Regions from separate parts of the Homo sapiens genome. Here regions 1, 2, 3 and 4 are each linked to region 5. The links come from fine-mapping of genetic effects on gene expression. A gene starts in region 5. Each other region holds a variant in brackets. All regions are shown on one strand. Distances are between the middles of the regions.

Evidence for each region.
Region 1: its variant is fine-mapped to the expression of BEGAIN in whole blood (INTERVAL, PIP above 0.99).
Region 2: its variant is fine-mapped to the expression of BEGAIN in esophagus muscle (GTEx, PIP 0.97).
Region 3: its variant is fine-mapped to the expression of BEGAIN in whole blood (INTERVAL, PIP above 0.99).
Region 4: its variant is fine-mapped to the expression of BEGAIN in skeletal muscle (GTEx, PIP above 0.99).

What each region holds. Positions count from the first base shown.
Region 1 is chr14:100,615,467-100,620,276 of GRCh38, reverse strand. No RefSeq gene overlaps it. Among named protein-coding and RNA genes, the nearest start is that of BEGAIN, 30 kb to the right of the region's middle. The variant G/TCTCG (reference allele first, on the strand shown) is at 2,832.
Region 2 is chr14:100,505,284-100,510,093 of GRCh38, reverse strand. All of the region lies in intron 4 of WDR25 (WD repeat domain 25), which reads right to left. Among named protein-coding and RNA genes, the nearest start is that of BEGAIN, 80 kb to the left of the region's middle. The variant C/T (reference allele first, on the strand shown) is at 2,357.
Region 3 is chr14:100,541,866-100,546,675 of GRCh38, reverse strand. BEGAIN (brain enriched guanylate kinase associated) reads left to right here. Exons shown (of 7, transcript NM_001385089.1): 3 at 14-175; 4 at 1,610-1,676; 5 at 2,711-2,818. LOC124903382 (a long non-coding RNA gene) reads right to left here. Exons shown (of 2, transcript XR_007064334.1): 2 at 3,733-4,810. Among named protein-coding and RNA genes, the nearest start is that of BEGAIN, 43 kb to the left of the region's middle. The variant G/A (reference allele first, on the strand shown) is at 2,005.
Region 4 is chr14:100,469,051-100,473,860 of GRCh38, reverse strand. The region is part of intron 3 of WDR25 (WD repeat domain 25); the gene reads right to left. Among named protein-coding and RNA genes, the nearest start is that of WDR25, 95 kb to the right of the region's middle. The variant T/C (reference allele first, on the strand shown) is at 1,993.
Region 5 is chr14:100,584,543-100,589,352 of GRCh38, reverse strand. BEGAIN (brain enriched guanylate kinase associated) reads left to right here and starts at 1,936. Exons shown (of 7, transcript NM_001385089.1): 1 at 1,936-2,104. The coding sequence starts at 2,063.

The DNA of each region.
Region 1 (4,810 bases), 31 kb before region 5:
ACTGCACCGTTACTGCTCTATAGATCTGACTTCCAGCTGCCAGCCTCCTGTCAACCAAAGGGTGAAGTTTTCCTAATGAGGATCCTTTTTATGCACTCAGGCTGGAGCTCATGTAGGAGCTAATTAATTTTAGGTTCCACATGAACGCAACAGCTGAAAATTAGCACTTGCAGAAAGCCAGTCCCAGCCATTCCCCTAAATTGCAGGGGGGGCCTGGAAGCCAGAGGTGCTGACAGCTCCTGGCAGGAGAGCACCAACCTTAGCTGCTTCTTCTCCACCCCTCCCAGGCAAGGCCTCCCTGGACCAGCCTTTCCCTCAGGGCTCAGGACCACAGGGAGGGTGCACAGGAGAGAGGCCACAGGCGCCCCCAGCCTCCAGCCAGGGTCCCTTGGGCTCACAGCCCTTGAAGGGTCCCTGGAGATGTGCTGTCTTAGGTGATCTCTGCCCTCAGCTTGCTGCAGCTCTGCTCCTGAACTAGACTGGGCTCCCTGGCGGCAGGGCCCAGGTCACTCCTATCTCTAGTTATCCAGCAGCTTCCAAATTAGTCTCATTTCATAAGTCACCCCTGCCTCCAGGAGTGTAGGGGAAACTGCTGCAAATGTTGGGCAAAGCCTGGATCCCCGACTTCCCCTCCCAGTCGGGTGACCTGTAAGCCTGTCACCAGGGTCCTGAGTATCCCTGTCAAATGGGGGTGATGCCGCCCACTCCCAGGGCTGTGAGGCTCAGGCGAGATCATCATGGCAACTGTGACGGTGATGGCAGTGTTCACTCATTGTCAGTGGCATTGCATGAACTTGACACGCCTTGTGCTCTTCTGACGGCCACACAAATCCAGACAACACTGGAGAAATCTTTCCTTTGAGCAAACTGAGCCTGTACCTCAGAGCCAGACTGGGTTTTGCATGGAAGGCTTGCAAAGTGCCCCAGCTTCAGGTCTCACGGAGCTGGGAGCAAATCCCAGCTTCAGCTTCTCTTCCTGACTCCAACGCTTCAAATGACATGTCTATAAAATAAGGCGAATATAGGTCCCAAGTCCCTTCTCCAGAAGCCTCAAGGCCAGATGTCTACTAGAAATTCAAGTTGTGTGGCTCTCAGACAGGTCACATGGCACTTATACCATCTATTACATAACAACCCCCAGGGGCCGGGATAGCACTTCCTAATCAAACATCCATATCTCCCAGTGTGATGTGTGCATATTGACTCCAAGGGATCAATAAAGATCACAAATAGCCTTGTGTCGAATCACATCTGGCTGTGCTGCCAAGCTTAGGAAAACGTTCTCAATGTTTAGAGCACGGTGCATTTGGAAGTGAGGATAAGGGCTGCGGTGAGGCTTAAAGGCGCTCGTGTGCTTAGCAGCGAGCCTGGCTGGCAGAAACTGCTCCTGCTACCACCATTAATTTTCTGGGTGCAATGACAAACAAGGCAGCATTTGACAGAAAATGTCAGCTCCTGCTGTGACCAACCCCCACCACCCTCCCCTGGCAGCAGAATCTTGGGAGGCTCTACTGGCACCCAAAGTCCAATCACCCTTAGAAGTCAGATGGTGACCCTATCCTTTCTGGACTCACAGAACCTTCTCACAAAGAGGATTTGAGCCAAAACATTATAACGTTTCCCCCAGTCTTCCTCCCAGGAAGAGTAGCAGTGACCTGACTTCTTCATTTTTCTCACCCCTCCCGCCAGGGCAGAGAAAACCCCATCAGAGCCACAGCTCTGATCCTACTTCCCCAGAAAGCTCTGGGCAGCCAGCCGCAGCTGCTCACAGGAAGAGACACTCCTCGGCAGTGGCAGCTCCCTCCCCGTGCCAGGACCCTGGCTGCCTACGATGAGGGTGGGCAGGAGGCAGCCTCGTCTTTCAGAAGGGCAGAGACGCCCACTGAGAACTGAGCATCATTTAAAAAGGAGCAACCCATTAAAAAGATCCTAAGAAGGACCCACGCATTTGATCAGTGCCCCACTCAGGGCCCTGGAGCCTGCTATCATCCTTCAGAGAAGTGAGGGTGGGATCTGCTTCTGCATGAAGGCCTCATTCAAGCCACTCCAGCAGAGAACCCTCCAGAGACTGGCCTCCGATTCCGAGCACGTGCCGAGCTGGCAGGCGCAAGCAGGCACACAGATTAAAACTCCCTATGGTTTGCACAACTGAGCTCTTGTCTTAGCTTTCGAACAGTGTTATTTTAGGAAGGTTCCCAAACAAGCGAGGCTTTCTGAAAGCCGGCCCTCCTTAAGGCGGTCTTTGTTTTTAGCTCAAACTCTACTGGTTCTGGTCCCATCCCAGGGACCAAAGTCCTTAAGGCTTCTCTCTTCCTCATAAGAAGGATATGTTGGATGTTCATTTAGGAAGTTCGACAGCCGGAAGGAAGCCGGGTGCCCCCAGGAGTTCTTGCCCAGGAAGCCCTGTCCAGTCCAGCCTGCCAGGTCTCCCGCAAAACGCAGCTTCTAACCCAGGCTGCCTCCCTCCCACGCACACCAAGGGGAACCAGCATCTGTCACTCCAGTTTCTCTAGAGGTTAGGGATCTCCCCAGTTGCTTTGACCAATAGGAGACAAGAGTTTGGGATCATTTCTTCTCCCTCCCACCGCCCATACACATGCTCCACATAAGAATTTTCAGGCAGCCTCTGAAGTCATCCCAGGAGACAGAACAAAGGCTGTGCTTCTCCTGCGCTCTCCTGTGCACAGCCTCCCCCACTCCCCTTTTCCCTCACTCCAACTTTCCAGGGTGGCACCCTAACACAGATCTACCAGGAAGCAGCTACCCGGTGAGCTCTGAGCTGAGGCAGGAAGTCTCCTCTCTCTCTCTCTCTCTCTCTCTCTCTCTCTCTC[G/TCTCG]CTCTCTCTCTCTCGCTCTCTCTCTCTCTCTTGCTCTCTCTCTCTCAACTACTCTAGGATAACCTATAAGAGGGAACCGACATCAACTGCTCTTTCTCAAAATCCTGCTCACCAAGGTGACAGTCAACATATCCAGCACTCCGTTCTGCATGGACATCTGCCAATCAGAGAGTCGCTGTGACATAAGGGACAGTCCACAAGTTCACCCTCACTTCTGACACCAGCTGAGGGTTTGGAGGTTCCCAAGACCATGCTTCGTTTTCAAAATTTGATGGAAGGACTCACAGAACTCACTGAAAGCTGCTATGCTCACAGTGAGCTTATGAAAGGGACAGATTAGACTCTGCTGAGGGAGGAGGTACATGGGGCAGAGTTCAGGAAAGTTCCAGACACGGGGCTTCCCGTTGTCTTCTCCCCATGGGGTCATGGACAGTGTTACTTCCTGTGACATGGGGTTTTGTCAACTAGGGAAGCTCGCCCAAGCTTTGGCATTCAGCTCAGGATCTTCTCTGGGGCCTCTACCGTCAATCATCTACCTGGGAGACCCCAGTCAAAAGCTTCCCCCAGACATCCAGCTGATACCGTGTTACCGTGTGACTCAAACTGCCCACCTCAAATCACCTTGTTAGACTTGCTGGTCTGGCCCAAAGCCTGCAGGGAGAAGACACTCTTTGGCAGGACATTCCAAGGACCTAGAGGTCACCTCCCAGGAGTTGAAAGCAAAGACCTGAACTCTTTTTTGGGCAAGGCAAAATTCTTTTCTACAACCAACCAATCAACCAACCGGCACAGCCACATCCACGTGTGCTGCTGGCCATCATTCCGTGGGTCTGTGGAATCTTCCAGAAGTTGTCAGGAGCAGCGGCTACATCCACAGGTGCTGTCCAGGGTCCCCCAACATTGTGCACCCCATCTTTCTTCTGCTGCCCTGTCCACTCTGGCCGGCTCTTCAATCCTGTGTCCTCCCGTATGTCTGGCCCAGCCTCCACGTGGAGCGACTGCATTGCGGACTGGCCGGCACAATCGCAGATTTCTTTGGGGATGTGGTGTCCAATAGCCTAGGGCAGACAGGCAACCTCCTGGGCCGTCTTCATTCAGAGAGCAGCTTCCACATGGAAATCCCGGGCCACAATATCTCAGTATTGTATTTGTGTTTTTAGTAGAGACGGGGTTTCACTCTGCTGCCCAGGCTGGTCTCAAACTCCTGAGCAGCAATGTAGCCATGTGACTGCTGCTTATTCCCCAAAAAGACCAACAGAACCATTGCTCCGAGGCAAGGCGGAGCTGACTACCTCCTGCCAGCTACTGCTTAAGGATCTGGGTCAGGTCCCAGGAGAGGAGGGCAGGGCTAACACTTACAGGGCTTGGGGGTCTGGGCTGGAGGAGTTCAAAGCAGGCCTTTCAATATGGAGATTGGCAAAGGTTTTTTGTTTTGTTTTTTTCTCTTAGAATTTTTAAGAATTGGCCGGGCACAGTGGCTCATGCCTGTAATCCCAGCGCTTTGGAAGGCCAAGGCGGCGGATCACCTGAGGTCAGGATTTCAACAACAGCCTGGCCAACAATGGTGAAACCCTGTCTCTACTGAAAATACAAAAATTAGCCGGGTGTGGTGGTGGGCACCTGTAATCCAAGCTACTCGGGAGGTTGAGGCAGGAGAATTGCTTGAACCCGGGAGGCAGAGGTTGCAGTGAGCCAAGACGGCACCACGGCACTCCAGCCTGGGTGCCAGATTGAGACTCCATCTCAAAAAAATAAAAATAAAAATAAAGAATTTTTTTAAATTGTGGTAATATATATATATATAACATAAAAGATACCGTTTTAACCACTTTTAAGTGTACAGTTCAGTGACATTAAGTACGTTCACATTGAGGCCAGGTGCAGTGGCTCACGCCTGTAATGCCAGCCTTTGGGAGACCAAGGCGGGTGGATCATGAGGTCAAGAGATCAAGACCATCCTGGCCAACATGGTGAAACCC
Region 2 (4,810 bases), 79 kb after region 5:
TTGCCATGTTGGCCAGGCTGGTCTCGACCTCCTGACCTCAAGTGATCCACCCACCTCAGCCTCCCAAAGTGCTGGGGTTACAGGTGTGAGCCACCATAACCAGCCTACAAAAAATTTTTTTAATTAAAAAAAAAAAGAAATCAATGGAACAGAAGAGAGAGTACAACAATAGACCTAAATCTATTTAGCCAATTGATTTCCACAGAGAGGTAAAGGCACAGATATTGTTTTCAACAAATGCTGCAGAAATTTGATTATCCACAGGCAAAAACATGAAACTACATCCATACCTGTACCATACACAAAAAATTAATACTAAATAGATCACAGACTTTAATATGAAGCCCAAAACTATACAACTTCTAGAAGTAAACACAGGGGCACAAAAACTTTTGAAGGTAATGGATGCATTATTTATCTTGATTGTGGTAACTATTTCATGGATGTATACATATATGAAAACTTAAACTGTACATTTTGAATATGTGCAGCTTATTGTATGTCAGTTATATTTCCATAAAAGTATAAAAAGGGCAGGACACGACAAAAATGAAGGAAAAATAAAGACATTTTTGATAAACAAAAACAGAGAATTCCCCACCACAAACCTGTATTATAAGAAATGCTAAAGGAAGTTCTGCAGCCTGGGGGGTAGTGATACCAGATTGGCACTCAGATCAACAAGAAGAAATGAAGACACCCCAGCCATTAAAAAATAAAGTTAAAAACAATTTTAGAGCAATAAATTTGACAATTTAGATAAAATGGAAAAATTCCTTAGAAGATAAAAGATAACAAAAACAACTAAAGGAGAAATAGGACACCTGAATGGCCCACGTTACACATAGTTAATTTTTTTTGTGATTCAATATCTACCTACAAAGAAAGTCTTGTGTCCAGATGTCTTCACTGCTGAATTCTATCAAACATTTAAGGAAGAAATAATACCAATCTTATACAAACATTCAAAAACATAAGTAGAGAACATTTCTCAGTTCACTTTTCTGAGGTCAATATTAATCTCACATCAAAATGAGACAAAGAATATAGGAAAAAATGTATCGATCAATAATCCTCATTAACATAGATTTTAAAAATCCTTAACAAATTATTAGCAACTTGAATTAAACTCTATATAAGGACAATATATCATAAAACCAAATAGGAAAGATATGGTTTAACTTTAAAAAAAATCAATGTAATTCAACATATTAGCAGAACATAGGAAAACATATAGATGTAGTAAAATCATTTTTGACAAAATTCAACACCAATATATGATTTTTAAAAAATTCATACAACTAAGAATAGAAGGTAGCTTTCTTAAACTGACTTAAGGTATCTATGAAAAACCAACATCTAACATCATACTTAATGGTAAAAGACTGATTGTTTTCCCTACAAAATGAGAAACAAGACAAAAATGTCCATTTTCACAATTTCTATTCAGTATTGTACCGAAAGTTCTAGTCATTGTAATACAGCAAGAAAAATAAATAATTGCACATGCATTAGAAAGAAAGCTGTAAAATAATACAGACTACATGATCATGTAAATTAAAATTTCTAAGTAATCTAGGAAAAAGCTACAAGAACTAAGAAGTGAATTTTAGTAAGGTCACATGATACACAGTCCATATAAAAGAGTCCTGTATCTTGCCTGATTGTTCTGGCTAGGACTTCCAGTACTACATTGAATTAGGAATGGTGAGAGTAGGCACCCTTGTCTTATTCCAGTTCTCAAGGGGAATGCTTCCAGTTTTTGCCCATTCAGTATGAAGTTGGCTGTGGGTTTGTCATAGACAGCTCTTTTTATTTTAAGGTATGTTCCTTCAAGGCCTAGTTTCTTGAGGGTTTTTATCACGAAAGGATGTTGGATTTTATTGAAAGCTTTTTCTGTGTTTATTGAGATAATCATATTATTTTTGTTTTCAATTCTGTTTATGTGGTGAATCACATTTGTTGATTCACATATAATGAACCAACTTTGCATCCGAGGAATGAAGCCTACTTGATCATGGTGAATTAACTTTTTGATGTGCTGCTGGATTTGGTTCACTAGTATTTTGTTGAGGATTTCTGCATCTATGTTCATCAGGGATATTGGCTTGTAGTTTTCTTTTTTTCTTGCCAAGTTTTGGTATGAAATGTTGGCTTTGTAGAATGAGTCAGGCAAGAGAAATAAAGGGCATTGAGATAGGAAAAAATAAGTCAAACTATCTCTCTTCACAGATGATATTATTCAATATTTAGAAAACCCTAAAGACTATGCCAAAGGGCTCCTGGAACTAATAAATGACTTCAGTAAAGTTTCAAGATAAAAATTCAATGTGTAAAAATCTGTAGCATTTCTATA[C/T]ACCAATAACATTCAAGCTGAGAACAAATCAAGAATACAATCCCATTTGCAATACCATTTGCAACAGCCATAAAAAAAAAAAAAAACACAAATACCTAGGAATACATCTAACCAAGAAGGTGAAAGATCTCTACAAGGAGAACTACAAAATACTGCTGAAAGAAATCATAAACGACACAAACAAATAGAAAACCATTCCGTGCTCATGGATTCGAAGAATCAATATCATTAAAATGACCATACTGCCCAAAGCACTCTATAGATCCAATGCTATTCCTATCAAACTACCAATATCATTTTTCACAGAACTAGAAAAAACTGCTCTAAAATTCATATGAAACCCAAAAAGAGCCCAAATAGCCAAAGCAATCTTAAGCAAAAAGAACAAAGCTGGAGACATCCTATTACTTGACCTCAAACTATACTATAAGGCTACAGTAACCAAAACAACATAGTACTGTACAAACACAGACACATAGCCCAATCAAACAGAATAGAGAACCCAGAATAAAGCTGCACACCTGCAGCCATCTGATCTTCAACAAAGTCAACCAAAATAAGCAATGGGGAAAAGATTCCCTTTGCAATAAATGGTGCTGGGATAGATGGCTAGCCATATACAAAAAAATGAAACTGGCCCCTGCCTTTCACCATATACAAAAATTAACTCAACATTTAAATGTAAGACCTCAAACTTTAAGAATCCTATAAAAATAAAACCTAGGAAACATCATTTTGGACATCAGCCTTAGGAAAGAATTTATTGCTAAGTCCTCAAAAGCAACTGCAATAAAAACAAAAATTAACAAGCAGGACCTAATTAAACCAAAGAGCTTCTGCACAGCAAAATAAACTATCCAGAGAGTAAACAGACAACCTACAGAATAGGAGAAATATTTGCAAACTACGCATCTGACAAAGCTGTAATATCCAGAATCTATAAGAAACTTAAACAATTGAACAAGCAAAAAAACAAATAACCCTATTAAAAAATGGGCCAAAGACATGAATAGACACTTCTCAAAAGAAGACATACAGGCAGCCAGCAAATATGAAAAAATGTTCAACATCACTAGTCAGCAGAGAAATGCAAATCAAAATCACAATGAGATAACTTCTCACACCAGACAGCATGGCTATTACTAAAAAGTCAAAAAAATAACAGGTGCTAGCAAGGCTGCAGAGAAAAAAGAACACTTATACTCTGTTGGTGGGAATGTAAGTTATTTCAGCCATTGTGGAAAGCAGTTTGGAGGTTTCTCAAAGAACATAAAACAGTACTACCATTTATCCCAGCAATCCCATTACTGGGTATATATCCAAAAGAAAATGTTATTCTACCAAAGAGACACATGCACTCACGTGTTCATCACAGCACTATTCACAATAGCAAAGACATGGAATCAATCTAGGTGCCCATCAACAGTAGATTGAATACAGAAAATGTGGCAAATATACACCATGGAATACTATGCAGCCATAAAAAAGGATGAAATCATGTCCTTTGCAGCAACACGGATGAAGTTGGAGACCATTTTCCTAAGCAAATTAATGCAGGAACAGAAAACAAAAATACTCCATGTTTTCACTTATAAGTGGAAGCTAAACTTTGGGTACTTGTGGAAATAAAGATGGCACAATAGACACTGTGGTCTAGAGGGTGGAGGGAGGGAGCGGGCAAGGGTTGAAAAACTAACTGTTGAGTACTATGCTCAGTAACTGGGTGAAGGGATCAATCATACCCGAAACCTCAACATCACGCATTATACCCAGGTAACAAACCTGCACGTGTATCCCCTGGATCTAAAATAAAAGTTGAAATTATTTTTTTAAAAAGAAAGTTAATAGTATTTCTATATACTAATACCAAACAACTGGAAAATGAAATAAAATATAAAATTCCACTCACATTAGTATCCAAAAACATGAGAAACTGAGGAATAAATTAATACAACATGTGTAACATCAAACACTGAAAACTACAAAACACAGCTGACAGAAACTAAAGAAGAGCTAAATAAATGAAGAGATGTGCTATGTTCATGGATAAGAAGATGCAACATTATTAAGATGTCAATTATCCCCAAACTGATCTACAGATTGGACCCAATAGATATCTTTGTAGAAAAAGATAAGTTGATTGTAAAATTGAAATACGAATGTAAAGAACCTAGAATAGCCAGAAAAATCTTGAAAAAGAAAAGCAAAGTTTGAGGCTTAAACTTCTCAATCTCAAAAATTATTATAAAGCTACAGTAACCAAAAGAGTATGATATTGGTAAAATGATAGACACATCAATCAATAGAACAGAACTGACAAGCCAGAAAGAGAACCTCATGTGGCAAATTGATTTTCCACCAAGGCTCCAAAAACAATCTAATGAGGAAAATAATGTCGTTTCAACAAATGCTGCCAAAACAACTGGGTATCCCACATAGCAAAAGAAATAAATA
Region 3 (4,810 bases), 43 kb after region 5:
CATGTCGTTGCAGCGCGCTGCAGGAGCAGAAGGGCGAGCTGCGCAAGCGGCTGTCCTACACCACACACAAGCTCGAGAAGCTCGAGACCGAGTTCGACTCCACGCGCCACTACCTGGAGATCGAGCTGCGGCGCGCGCAGGAGGAACTGGAGAAGGTCACGGAGAAGCTGCGCAGGTGAGGGGCGGGGCGAGGGCCGGGGCGGGGCGAGGGCCGGGGCGGGGCGAGGGCCGGGGCGGGGCGAGGGCCGGGGCGGGGCGAGGGCCGGGGCGGGGCGAGGGCCGGGGCGGGGCGAGGGCCGGGGCGGGGCGAGGGCCGGGGCGGGGCGAGGGCCGGGGTGGGGCAGGGCCCGAGGCCCGGAAAGCCGCACGCGGTGCTCCCCTCTCACCCTGGCTGTTGACTCCACTCAGATGGGGAGTCCAGAGGTTCTGGTAGGGGAAGCTCTTCCTCCAAAGTCACACTATGGAGCAGCTGAGCCAGGATTTGAACCCAGCAGATCTCCAGACCCAGACTGGTCCACCCGGGGCCCAGCCATGGTTCCCTGGGTCCTGATGGGAAAAGCTGTGTCTAGCCCGGAGATGAACCAGTTTAGGGACCCTTCCCTTGAGCGCGTACGGGCTAATGAAGTGTCGATCCAGTTGTGCTGGACTCCCTCAAACACCAAACTTTTCTAAAAGCAGTTTTCTTGTGCACATTTAAAATGGATGTTTTTCTGAAATGTAATATGCACTTTCTCATCTTCTTAAACAGAAAATGCAAGAAGCATGCAACCTTTGCTGTTGGCTTGATTTGTTTTAGGTATTTGTAGAGAATCGGCTGGTGTTGCCCCTAGGGAGGACTTGCCATAGGGAGAGGGTTTGTCCCTCTCCGAACAGCCCCAGCTCCTGAGTGTTTTGAATGTCACCCTCCATTCATGTGGAAACCAAGCTTGGGCAGTGCAGTCAGACCTCAGTTAAAATCTGGGCCCTGCCAGTTACTGCTTTAAGTAATTAAAGTTTCACCTCAGTTTCCCTATTGGCAAGACAGGGGCCATAACACGACACATAGGTTGTCTGAGGCTGGACACCATCCCCAAGCCCCCTCCCACCAGCAATGGAATCTCCAAGCACCTGATTCCCACCTGACACTCAGCTCCACTCCTCCTACCCGGCAGAACCGAGTCTTGTTCACTGTGATGTCTCCAGCCTCACCCTGGGGCCCATCACATAGTTAGTGTTAAGTTTCTTCCCTGCTCATTTGCATTTGAACTGTCAACCCCATAACAGGTTTGTAAGAATTGTGGGTCAAATGTGAGTAAACTGGCTCCGCGTGTGGATGGGACAGAGTCTCTTGTGAATAACAAGCCTTCCCTTCCCATCTTCAGGGGGTCCCGGGGTGGAGGGGGAAATACAGTCCTGGGCCCTGGCCTAGGAAAGGCTTCTACAAAAGTTTGCTTTAATGGGATGTTCTCTGCTGTGTGCAGAGGGGCACACATTCCACCAGGGTGAAGCTGGTGGGGTGAGCTCAGGAGGTCCAAATTCAGCCCCACCCTGCTCAGCAGGCTGTGCGGCCATAAGGGTCGTGGGAGGGACAGGCCTTGCATGGCAGTGACCCCCTTGCCTCCTGCACCAGGATTCAGAGCAACTACATGGCACTGCAGAGGATCAACCAGGAGCTGGAGGACAAGCTGTACCGCATGGTGAGGCCGCCACGCAGCGCCCACTCCCCCACCCCACACCTCCTTCCCGGGGGGAGCCACCCAGCTGACACCCCTGGGCCACTCAGGAGCTGGGACACAGGTCTTGCTGGTCCCACCCCTTTCTCCATGGAACATGTGGAGCAGGGTGTGTGCTCTCAGGCTAAGGAAGTACTTGGGTCCAGGGCTGCCCTGTGCTGCCTGAGTGGCGGGTGCGAGCACTCCAGCCTGGGGGTGTGTAAGAGGGGCTGTGGACGGAGGACATACACTGGGAACGGGCCCCCCAGCTCAGCCTGCCAGTCCAAGGACCTGGGCCCAGGAGGATAGGGAG[G/A]CCCGAATTCAGGCCCTGGGTGAGCCAGAGGCAGGTTTGAGCCCCAGCTCCGCCTCTCATGGGGACCCCTCTGTGGGGACCCTCACACCACCTGCAGGTGACCTCAGTGGGGTCGCCATTTTCTCTGTGAACACACTGCTGGGACATGTCGAAGAGGGGCAGGGTGTGGGTTTCTGGTGCCACTCCCTCACTAGGATGAAGAGGTTTCCTTTCTTTCTACTTTGGTGACCAGCTCATTTTGGTTTTGAAAGCAACAACCTGCCCACCTTTGTGGTGCTATCAGAGACGGGGGGTGGCAGGCCTGGGGGCTGGGCCTGGCTCTGCCTGGGTGCCTGGACACCGGCCCTTTCCTGAGCCTCAGTTTCCCAATCTGTCCAGTGAGGTGGGCTGGGCTCTATGCCAGGCACAAGTCATCTGTCCTCCGTCCCCACTCCCAGCTCCTGAGGCAGGACGCTGTCACCTCTGTGTTGCACATGAGAAACTGAGGCTCAGAGGCAGTGACGTCCCCAAGGCTGTGTGGCTTGGCAGTGTTGGACCCAGGAATTGAACCAGGGTCTGTCTGTGCTCATAAACCCCACACCCTTGGCCCTCTAAGTGTCTTGTCACTCATGGCTACAAGGGACAAACCAGGGGGTGCAATCGAGCGACTGGGTTGGCTCACCAGGAGCCAACCACGGGCCTCCTCCTCCCACTGTCCCACCCCCAGGGCCAGCACTATGAGGAGGAGAAGCGTGCGCTGAGCCACGAGATTGTTGCCCTCAACAGCCATCTGCTAGAAGCCAAGGTGACCATCGACAAGCTGTCAGAGGACAACGTGAGTGCCGCACACACTTGGCCCATGGAAGACTGCCGGTGGGCCTAGGCGAGGGCTTCCCAGGATGCACTGGGAGTCACATTCTGACTCTGAAGGGTCCTGAGCTCAGCTGCTTTGGCCCCAGCCTCAAGGGGCTGGTGCAGGGTACAGGTGGATGGACAGGCTGGTCAGGGCTTTGAGAAGGACCTGCTGCAGTTGGGGAAAGATGGTGCTGTCTCATTGAGGACGCCAAGGGTGTCCTTAAACAGACCCTCTGCTGTAAGGACTTGAGCTAGGGGATGCGGGGCCATATTATCCCATTCAAGGCAAGGCTTCCTGATCCCAAGGTGGGGTCATGGCCACTCAGGACTCCTGCCCTTGGCCAGTCCCAGTGTTGCATCACAGCCGTGTGGCTGCCCATGGGGCCTAATTTCAGGGACCCTGTGAGATGGGCCCAGTTGCCCTCCACAGACCCTGGACAGCTGCCTCTGCATTCACGAATTAGCTTCTACCTTGCCAGACCCTACTAGGCTCCAAGATGATGGTGTGAACAACACAGGCAAAAAAAAAAACAAAAAAAAAAACACCTCTGGCCACGTGGAGTTCACATCTGAGTGGGGCAAACTCTGGGGTATGTTAGAAGTGTGAAATGCTATAGAGAAACAGAAAGCGAAGAACGGTACCAGGGAGTCGCCAGCTGCAGGGCCTGCAGATTTCAAGAGGGTGCTTCTGGAAGGGGCTGCTGTGCCAGGACCTGAGGGAGTGAAGGAGCCAGCCATGCAGACATCCGTGGGAGAAGCATTGCTTCCAGGCAGAAGCAACCGTGGTGTGCAGCTGTACCTGGTTAACTCGGAGGATCCCAAAGGGGCCAAGGAGCGCCCAGCGGGAGGGGGAGCCAGGGTCTGAGGTCAGAAAGACCATAGGAGGCAATGTTGTAGAGGCTCCTCCCAGAAACCTGGGCTTTATTCTGAGTGCAGTGGGGAGCCATGGAGGGTTCTGAAAACAGAGGAGCAACGTGATTGCACGTGCAGCTTCCCAGGGCTCACGTGGCTGCCATGCTGGAAACAGGCTGTAGGGACGAGGACAGGAGCAGGAAGATCAGGAGGAGGCCAGGACCATAGTCCAAAAGATGATGGTGGCTCAGATGACGGTGGAACTGGGCAGAGGGCTGGGATTCTGGTTGTGTTTTGAAAATAGAATCAACAGGACTAACCAAGATTTAGGATGTGGGTTGTTAGAAGAAGAGCTGAGTCCAACCCAGCTACAGGATTCAGAGCCCAAACAAAAGGAGTTGCCTGCCATTTCCTGGCTGGGGACAGCTGGGGAGGGACAGGAGCTGGGTGGGAGATGCACAGGACCCCTTGGAGCGGAGATGTCACCAGGGCAGCAGGAGGCCCGGGTCTGGAGTTGAGCGTGAAGGCCGGCATGCCGGCGGAGACTGCCCAGGCAGCATGCAGATGAGAAGCAGGGAGGCCCCAGGACGGAGTAGGGACCAGCAAGGATGCCTGGGAGGGAGTGGCCAGTAGGCTGGGGGACACCAGGCGAGTATGGTGGCCCAACAACCACTTGAGAAGGGGGCTGCAGTCAATGCCCTGGCCGGCTGGCTTGCCAGCTGCTGAGAGACCAGGTCAGAGGGCCAAGGAGAGGCATTGGGATTTGGGGAACTGGAGGTCGGTGGTGGAGTGGAGCGGTGGTTCCAGACACAGGCCACCCTTCTAAGGAGTGTGGCTCTAACAGGAGGACAGGAGGACATGGGCTCGGGACAGGAGGTGCTTCTTAACGTGACAAGGCCAGGCCCCTTACCTAAGTGGACACTAGTCCTGGGGCCCTCTCTGCAGGGTTGGTGCACATGAGGAAACTAAGGCATGGCCAGCTTGAGTGGTTTCCCAGGTGACCCAGGTGGTGTCTCGCAGACGGAGCCAGAACTCAACCTCGGGACTCCGACTCCAGCAGCCCCGGGCCCTGGGTGGCCAGAGTGCTTGCCTCCACCTGTTCGCTCTGCCAGAGTGTCCC
Region 4 (4,810 bases), 120 kb after region 5:
ACTCCAGCCACAGTGCCAGAAAGCCAAAGAACGGAGAAGCCCAGGCCCCTCCACGGCACTTCTTCCAAGGACCGGCAGGAGCCAGCACCACCTCAAAGGCTTAGCACAACAAGGAGCCTCCTTCTGTGGCCCCTTCTCCAAAGCCCAGGAGCTCTTGGGGCTCTTTGCCATGGTTTTCATTTGGACACTTCTCACCCTTCCCATGCCAAGTGGTCTAAAGTCGTCATTGGAGCGTGGCCATCCATCACTGAAGAGGCATCTTTCCCTCAGTGGCCCACTTAATCAGAGGGATCAGTCCCCATGAGTCTGGAGCACTCCTTCTTCCCAGAGGCCCCATGTTATCCTCTGCAGGTGGCCAGCTGCTGCCCAGCAGGCTCCCCAGGAGTCAGGTTAAGTTGGGTTCCCCATTGTTTCCCTGTTTGTTCACAGCAGGGAAACAGACGTGGGGAGGGCATGCCACACCATACCTCAACAGCAGGAGCTCTACTAGTCACATGCCAGCACTGGATCCCACCTCTGTCACCTCAAGAAAGTCACTGACCATGCTAAGCCTCAGTTTCTGGGTCCATGAAATGGGATTAAAAACACTCCTCTCACAGGAGGAGTCACATAAGCAAAGAGTCTACCATCCACTCACTCATTTCACCTCCACACAGGCCAGGCAGCGTGCTGGAACCCAGGGCACATAGCCCAGGGCCCAGCCCACAGCAAGGGCTCGATAACCTGTCATTCTCTTTTTCCTTGTAGCATTTCTGTGAATGGAAGCCCCAGTCATAGATTGAAAACAAGGGAGAGACAAGAAGACACCTCTTGGAAAGCAAGGAGAAATGGTCATTTATGAGCCCAGTCCCAGTTGGCTGCTCACTTCCACACAACATGACTCCCACCAAAAGACACTGGGACACCCAGGGCAGGAGGAGCCAGCCAAAAGCTGGGGACAGCAGAGCTGCAGGCTGTGGGCATCTGAAGGAAGAGGGCCATAGGCCTCCTGCAGCCATGAGTGCCTGGGGCTCTGGAGAGGGTCAGGCCGGGCAGGCTGGGGGTCTGTATACCCACTCGAGAGCCCTAATAAAGAGTGCGTGTTGTCCCATTACCAGGAGGAAGGGGAATGTGGAGGAGATGCTGGGAGAACCCATGATGGCCCAAGGCCTCCTCCCAGTCTGCCCCCAAGACCCACGCAGGGGACCAACAGCACATCTGTAAGCTCACTGAGGGGACCAGCAGGGGCCTCTGGATGATGATCGAAAAGTGGCCCCATGTGGGGAAATGGCCTGCCAACAAGGGCCATCTGGACAGCTTAGCAGGAACAAGGGCCTCATGGGCCATGACGGAGGAGGAGAGGAGTTCCTTGCTGAGGACCTACCACACGCCAGGCATTCTGCAAAGCACCCTATATGTGTTATCACAGCTGCTCCCTTCAACAGCCCCAGCACCAGGTGGTGTGGTAGAAACAGGTGAAGAGGCCTGGTTCGGGGAGGCAGAAGAGCCAACACCTGTACCCTGTCTATGTGCCCTCTCACGCGTGCTGCCTCCAGGATCTGGGAGGTAGACCCAGGTGGCACTGCACAGATGGCTCAGAGGAGCCAGCGCACATCAGGAGAGCCGGCCCATGCACAGGAAGGAGGACAGGGTTCCCTGCCCAGCCGGGGCTCCAGGGCTCCAGGAAGAGGAATCTCCTTTGCAGCCATCAAAGGTAAAGGACAGAGGCCCTGCATGCCTCTACAGCTGCAGCCTCGAGGGTCAGGCTGGGACACCTGCCTCAGGGCCTGGAGTCTGCAAGAAACATGACAGGACCGCTTAGAACTGAGGGAGCTCTCCGGGGGATTCTGAGGAGACTGGCTGAGCTGGCGTGTGGCACAGCTGACTCATAAGACAGGTGACACTCAGGGCCCTGGTGGAGTCGGCCAGCGTTCCCTGAGGCCACCTCAGCCTAACGTGCCACAGACGTTTTGTTAGGAAGATTACAGACTGAAACAAGAGCACCAAAAATAA[T/C]TGTGAGCAAGTTTTATTTAAGTGTTGATTCATGGTTGTTCTATAAGCCAACAACCTGTCAGAACTATAAATTAATGAGATAAAATGGTGCTGGCCCTCCGTATTTCAGGCCAGGTATTGACATTACAGAATCCACAGATTTTTAACTGTATTGATTGAGGACACCAGGATAAATGGCCTTGGCGCCAAATTAATGACAATGGGCACCAAGTGACTAATTCCCAAAGCGCTGCGGTGAGAACGCCCTGCACTGCCTTCTCCTGGCAGGGAGCCCTAATTAGATTGAAATGAAAAAGCCAAATCACCAAGGGCGGAAAAAGGCAGATCCAGTAGAAAGGGAGATCAGACTCAGCGAAGAGAAAGGACAAGACAAGTCAAAGCGGGACGAAAGCCACAGGGCCTGCAGAGCCCACCCCAATGGCTAAAGAGAGCACTTACCAAAAGCTGGAGGTGGGATGTGCAGAGATAAGGTAGGAGACATAGGGGGAGACATAGGTGGAGGCCCCCCGACCAGCCCTGGCAGTCCCTGATGGGCTTCACTGCCCAGATAGGAGGACCTGGCAAGGACAAACTCAGCACATCTTACCCACACAGGTACTGAGCAGCTGCTCCAAGCCAGCCCTGGCCAGAGGATAGAGACACAAAGACCACCAGGACAGGCTCCCATCCTCATGGAGCTCCCAAGCCAGCCAGGGAGAGGGACATGGAAACCAACCACCCTCAGCAGCAGAGACCCTGTCTGTGTGTGCAGCGCTTCCCCAAGGGTGAGGTCCAAATCCCTCAACCATTCTCTCCCAGGGGCCCACCACACTCTCCACTGTGGCCTCAGCACCAAGTCCTACACGCAGTGGGTGCACAATAAGCAACTGCGGAGTGAACGAAACGGGGCCTTCAAGAGTTGAATTCAACAGTTCATTCAACAGTTGAATGAACCCAGTGGTGAGCGCCATTCCTAGCAGAGGGATGGAGTGAAGAAGTCCTCAATCACCTCCCCCACTGGATGGTAATGCCCTGGGGGCAGGGCCATGCTTTTCTTTACACACCCAACACACCACAGCTAGAGGGGCACATTGGGCCTGGGGCCAGACAAGCTGTTCTCCAAACGCAGTCCTATCACCAACCAGGCAAGGCATTCTACCTCCCACTCCTCCAACTCTCCACCAGGGGCTGCAGGTCACACAGGACCAGTGGGAGCTACCAAGGAGGACTACTCAAAGCACAGACCAAGCCCTGACTCTTGCCTGCTTCAAACTCAGCAATGGCCTCTGCCCGCCAGCTGCTATGGCAGTCCCTGACTCATCAGACAGGAGGACCCTCTTTGAATGTCTAAAAATTTCAGAACCCCCTGTCAAGACACCCCACTCACACCCACCCACACATACAATTGCATGCATTTGTTTAACTTCTGTTGATTGAGAGAATAATGCTTAAGGGCCACTATGAACCCATCAATGCCATCAAATGAATTTGATTTGAGTAATCCGACGGTGTGTGTGAGTGAGCTTGTCACTCTGTGAGCGGTGTGCTACCCACATGTGCTCACCTGACCCACAGGCTGGGGTTTCCCCTCCTGCACTCCTCAGACTCATCTGCCCCAGCCCCTGCACCCCATATTACATCCTGCTTTGGTTTCCATGCATACTACATGGAACCCTGTTCCTGTGTCAGCTCTGTCCTTGTTCCATCTGCAAGAACCTACTTTCCTCCTCATCAACCATACCTCCTCCATCCTAATTCTCTGTCCACCTAATCTGTGGCTCAGCTCAGGTTTCACTTCCTCCAGGAAGTCTTCCTTGATTTTCCAATCTAGATGTTCTTGCAATTCCTGTGTCTTTCTCCATCACTGCAATTTGGGATTGACTCTGCACTTCTGTCTTCTCCAGCAGACAGGAGCTTCTCCAGGGTAGGCACTGGGTCTTGTTCAGCTCTGTCTCGCCTATCAAGCATATCTTATGGGACATGCAGACAACAGAGTGTAACAGTCAGGCAGCAGGCTTTGGGGCCTAGCAGACCTGCGTGCATCCTGGCTCTGTCACTTGCTGGTTTGTGCCCCTGGCCAGTGTGTGTACAGCTGATTCTGATGGCGCCTGTCTCAAAGGGTGAGTGGGGCCTAAATAAGATGCTGTATAGAGGCTGTGGAAGAATGCCCAGCACACAGTGCTCAGTAGTAAGTGCTGCCATCATCAGCCCAGTCATCACCATCATCAAGTGGCATCAAACTCCCTGAGTCTGGCCACTCTGCAAGGGGTTAAGAGAATCAGTAAGACCAGGGAAGTGCTTTGTGAGAAGAAACTGCCACACACGGCACGGTGGGAAGGGCACAGAATCTGTAGTTGTACAGACATGGCTTCAAATCCCTGCTGGCTATGCACCACTGGGAGGCACTGAGCAAGCTGCTTTGCCCCTCTGAGCCTCAGTTTCCTCTCCTTTAAAATGGAAATAATCACTGCTGGCAGCTGCAGTGAGGATTAGACATGCTGTGTGCAAAGCCTATAGCACGTGGCAGGGGCCCTGTGACCATTAGTACTGTCCCCTCCCCTACTGAGCATGCAAGGAGCTGCAAGGCCGCCCACACTCAAGGTGGAAACAAACCACCTTCTCCATTTTCCCTCTGCGTCTCCTGGGGGCTGCTGGGCATGAGTGGCAGGGGTTGGACCAGCAAGTTATCATCTCCTTCTTGCCAGACCCTAGGAGAGGCAGGGCCCAGAGCCACCACCACTGCGGGGCTAGGCAGGCAAGATGCTGGCCTGAGGGTTCAAGGGGAGCCCCAGGGACTGGTGTGAAGTCTGGCCTCTCCCTGGGCTCCTGGCAGTGGAGC
Region 5 (4,810 bases):
CTGCTGGAGCTGAAGCAGGAGCCGCCCCCACCCCACCCGCCCCTCCCCCGCCTCCCCAGCCATCTGTGGCGTTGGCAGCAGCAGTGCCAGGGCGGGCGGTGAACATTCTGGCACCATCTGAGCAGGACCAGCCTCTGGGGAAGGGCCGCAGCCCAGGAGGAGGCAATGTGGGCAGAGCCCTGCCTGTACCCCAGGTTCCACATCCCCCATTGGTGTTTGTCCCCTTAGGGACTGGGGAGGGAAGGGACACTGGAGCTGGCAGGCTGGGCCTCACTACCTCTCACAGGATGCCTCCACTGCTGTGTGCTGCCTGAATGGTGTCTGAACCTGAGAGGCCAGAGTGGAGGTCAGGGAGCCTGTCCCTACTCCTGCTGGGGAGACTAAGGCCCCCTTGAGCAAAGAGGCTGGTCCCGTGGTGCACACCAGCGACGGTTTGGGCGAAGTCTGTCCACGCTTCGCCCAAACTGGGAGAGCCCCGCCCTGAGCTGCCGCCTCTCATTTTGTCTTGACTGTGGTGGGGTGCACTTGGAGGCGCCTCCCTCTGTCCATTGGTTACCCAATCATGTCCCTGGGACCTGAGAGGGAGCAGAGACAGGACTTTGCTTGACACGAAGTGGCTCCAGTCAGCTGCTGGTTCTTTTGCTTGTCTCCTTTTTTTCTGGGTTTCCCCTCTTGCCTTGCTATCAGTGCCTTTTCTCAGCACTGACACTGCCTGAATGTAGCAACCTACTCCCCAGATTAAATGAGAGAGCGTAGAAACTGCAAAGCATACAACATACAGCATATAAGGATGGTGGTGATGGCAGCTCAACAGTGGGAACTCAGTGTCCCCAAACTGTACACTTTAAAAGTGGTTAAAATGGTAAATTTTATGTTTTCCATGTTTTCCACAATTAAAAAACAAAAATATACAAGGTACTCATTCGCAGCATCTTCTAATCTGCCATGTACTTGGAAATGATATAAGCATGTGTGAACCATGAGCCCATAGGTCCCGAGGGAGGATATGAGCGAAGCACACGGGCTTTGCCAGCTCTGTTTCCACCACGCAGGACCCTCCCTGGCTGCCAGTGCTCCTCCCCGGGTTCCCACGCTGGCTGCTGCTGGGCTGGCTGGGATGGAAGACCCTCATGTAGCTGGCACCCTCAGGGCTGCCCCTTGCCCGCTCTGGGAGGAGAGAGGAGGGTTCACGCTGCACCTTTACCAGGGTAGGACTGGCCAGCCTGGGCTCTACCGGGCAGGTCGGTGGGATGCTTCAGACTGGAGGGATAGGCAGGGGGCAACACTGGTCCTCCTGAAGCCACCTTCCCTTCCTGAGAGCTCCTTGGGGAGAAGGCAAGCCCTGGAAGCCACCGACTGGGGGCTCGGGCAGAGCAAGGGCAGGGTAAGGGGCAGCTTGGCCAGGAGGCACCCTTGGGAGCCAGGGTTTCCTCATCTGTAAAATGTGACTCTGCGAGGGCAGGAGCTTGGTTTCACTCGCTACTGTACCCCCTGGGGCCTACAGCAGGGCTGGTTGGTACACACTAGGTGTCTAATAAATGTTGAGGGATTGAATGGATGGACCGATGAAAAGGTTGGGCAGGTCATTACTGACAGCCTCTGGGTTTCAAGGGCCCATTCACTCTGTCACTCACCTTCGCGCCCGTGCATTAGTTCTCTCATTTATTCATTCCCCCCGCCCCCCCAGCCCCGCATGCTCTACCGCACTCATTCATTCACGCGCTCAGCCATTCAAGCTGGCGCGGGTTCATTCATTCCCTGCCCCTCTGCCATTCCTCGCCTGGCCCCCGCGCACGCCGCACCCCCGCGCCCCTGCCCGGCCCTGCGCCCACCACTTGCGCCCCGGCCGGGCGCTGCCGGGAGGACGCGCGGGCTCAGCCGCGGCTGCGCGGGGCCGGGGCTGGCGGGGAGCCGGGCTGGGGGCGGGGGGCGGGCGCTCCCTGCGGGAAGCCGGGCGGGGTGGGGGAGCCCCGGCCGCGCCGGCTCCCGGCGCGCTCGGCCTCGGAGGGGAGGGGGCGGCGGTAGCGGCGGCGGCGGTGAGCGGCGCGGCTGCCCTGGGGCCATGTGGACTGGCGGTCGCCGGCCGGGCCGGCTGCGCCGGGCGGTGAGTACCTGCGAGCCGGGAGGGCAGGGCGCGGGCGCGGGCGCGGAGGCGGGGCGGGCGCCACCCACGCCTGGGGCGGTCCCTGCTCAGCGCGGGAGGTGGCCGGCCCCCCGCCCCGCTCCCCTCCGCGCTGCGCCCCCGCCGTGGAGGCTTCACTGGCCCGGGAGGAGCCGGGCCGGGTCTCCTGGGAACTGGGCACTCTCGGGTGGGGCGGGGATGCCCAGCCTCCGCGCGCCGCCGGGAGCGCCCGGGTCCTATCGCGGGGTCCTTGCGCCCTGACACGCGCGCCCCTGCGGCGGAAGGAAAGGAGGGACGGGTGACCAAGGGCGCGGCCGGAGGACTGGGGACCCGCCGCTGTCCCGGGCGGGTGGCGAGGGTGCGGGCAGGCCTGGACCCGCCTGCGTCTGGGGGCAGGGCCAGCCCCTGCTTGGGAGGCCGGAGAAAGGCCCGGGAGCCGGAAGGAGGCTGGACCCGGGGCCGCCTCATTGAGCGTTTGCAGCGCGTGGGCGCGCACGAACCTCGGACACCACCATCCCATTCAGTACCTCGCGGCAGGTACTATCCTCCTGCCCCTTTACAGGCGAGGAAACTGAGGCTCAGGGAGGCCAGGGCCTCGCCCAGAGCGGCTCAGCCGGCGCGCTCACCCTCCCTGAGCCCCAGCACGTTGGATGGGAATTTCTGCCCCAGCGTTTCCGCTTCCTGCTTGGTTTAGAGGTGTTTCCTTCCTCGTCTGTGCCCCACCCCATCCCCAATGTGGTTTCCTCAGGGCAGGAACAGCGTGGGCGACGCGCTGGAGTCTCCTGAGCCGGCAGAATGGGAGCAGAGTGGGCACCCGGGAGCGGGGCCGGATGGATAGGGAGCACTGCACGTGCAAAGTCCGCATGGCCAAGGTCGGCCGCCAGTGCAGACTGGGGGTCCAGGCCCTGGGGGTATGGGTGGGGCGGGGTCTCCACAGCCAGGCTCCGTCGGAGGCCCCAGTGCTCTGGCTCTCTGGAGGCCATGGACAGGTTCTTTTCCTTCTCTGGACCCTAGTTCCTCTGCCTGCCAAGAGCAGCAGAGACCCCCACTACTCCCAGGGCCAGGCTCCCACGAGGACTGTGGGCAGAAGCCCCTAACAAACTGCGGTGTGCAGCCCTGCCAGGCTGGCCTTGGTCTTGCCAGCAGGGGCAACTGGCCGTTGGGGGTGGCTCTGCCTGGCATCTGTGACACGCAGGGCGGGGAGACGGCAGAGAGGGCCCCAGCAGCATCCTGCAAACCCTTAATTTTCCCGACTCTCACTATAATCAGGGCAGCTTGGAAAAGCAAGCACTGTGGCAGATGCGGCTCTGCCCGGGCTCAGCACACGGGCTCTGGGCGATGGGCGGCTGCGCTGCCGCCAAGGGCCCTCCCCAGCTTTTGTCTCATATTTATAGATTCCAAGGCTCCGCGTTCCGTTTGTCGTCAAAACCTGGAGCTGTTCGCACCTGGGAGCTGAGTGGGGAGGGGAGGGCTGCCTAGAACCTCAGCCTGGAGGATGAGTTTTCCATGCGCTGGGGTGGAGTAGGGGGACACCTGTCAGAGCCCAGGCCTGGAGAGAGGAAATGAGCCCTAAGCAATCTGGAAGATCTTCCATCCACTCTCCCAAGACTTGGGCGCAGGGTCTGGCCCACATAGCTGCCATTTATGGAACGCCTGCTATGTACTGGGCCCTGGATCAGCATTTCCACGCATCATCTCCACGGCAACACTTTGAAGGAGCTTCCCTACTCCTGCAGGCACTCCTGATGCTGAAGAGTGGATGGATGGATGAATGGATGGATGGATGGATGGATGGATGGATGGATGGATGGATGGGAGGGAGGGAGGGATGGATGGGAGGGATGGATGGATGGGAGGGAGGGAGGGAGGGATGGATGGATGGGAGGGAGGGAGGGAGGGATGGATGGGAGGGAGGGAAGGAGGGATGGATGGGAGGGATGGGAGGGATGGATGGATGGGATGGATGGATGGATGGATGGGAGGGAGGGAGGGAGGGAGGGATGGATGGATGGATGGATGGATGGATGGATGGATGGGAGGGATTGACTGAAGCCCATGAGTCCATGGCTATTGGACACAGTCCACAAATCATTACCCAGGGTCCCAGGAGGTGGGGTCCAAGGGCTGAGTAGTTGCTGAACAGATGAAGGGGTCAAGGTGTGTTACAGGAGCCTGGCCCAAGGCCTGAAGGTGATGGGGAGAGTGTAGAGTGTTCAAGTCTCAAGACTTAGAGAGGCTGTGTCCTGCTGGAGTGTGGAAGCCATGGCGGTGGGGAGGTGTGGCTCCTCCCCCTAAGGGAGGTAAGGATCCCTGGGACAGATGGGTGGGTGACCCTAGGACTCGCCGTGTTGGTCTAGAATCACCCCGCATGGTTCTCTTCTGACTCCCCTTCCTGCCGCAGAGCTGGTCGCTAGCCTTAGTGGAGAGGCCTGGACGGAGGTCTGCAGCCCTGGGTTCTGGTTCCTCCTCTGCCGCTGACTCACTGTCTCCTCTCTAGGGCTCCGTATCAGAAGCTTAACACCCATTACAGTCAGGGGAGTGACTTCTGTGGCCTGAGAGCAGGCATCAGATTGTAGCCTGTGGTGGGAGAAGCTGGCCAGAGGTGTCTCTATTGCTTTAATCATTATAGGAATGAATGAATGAATGAATGATGAATGACTAAGTGTGTGAATTCTACACTCACCTAAC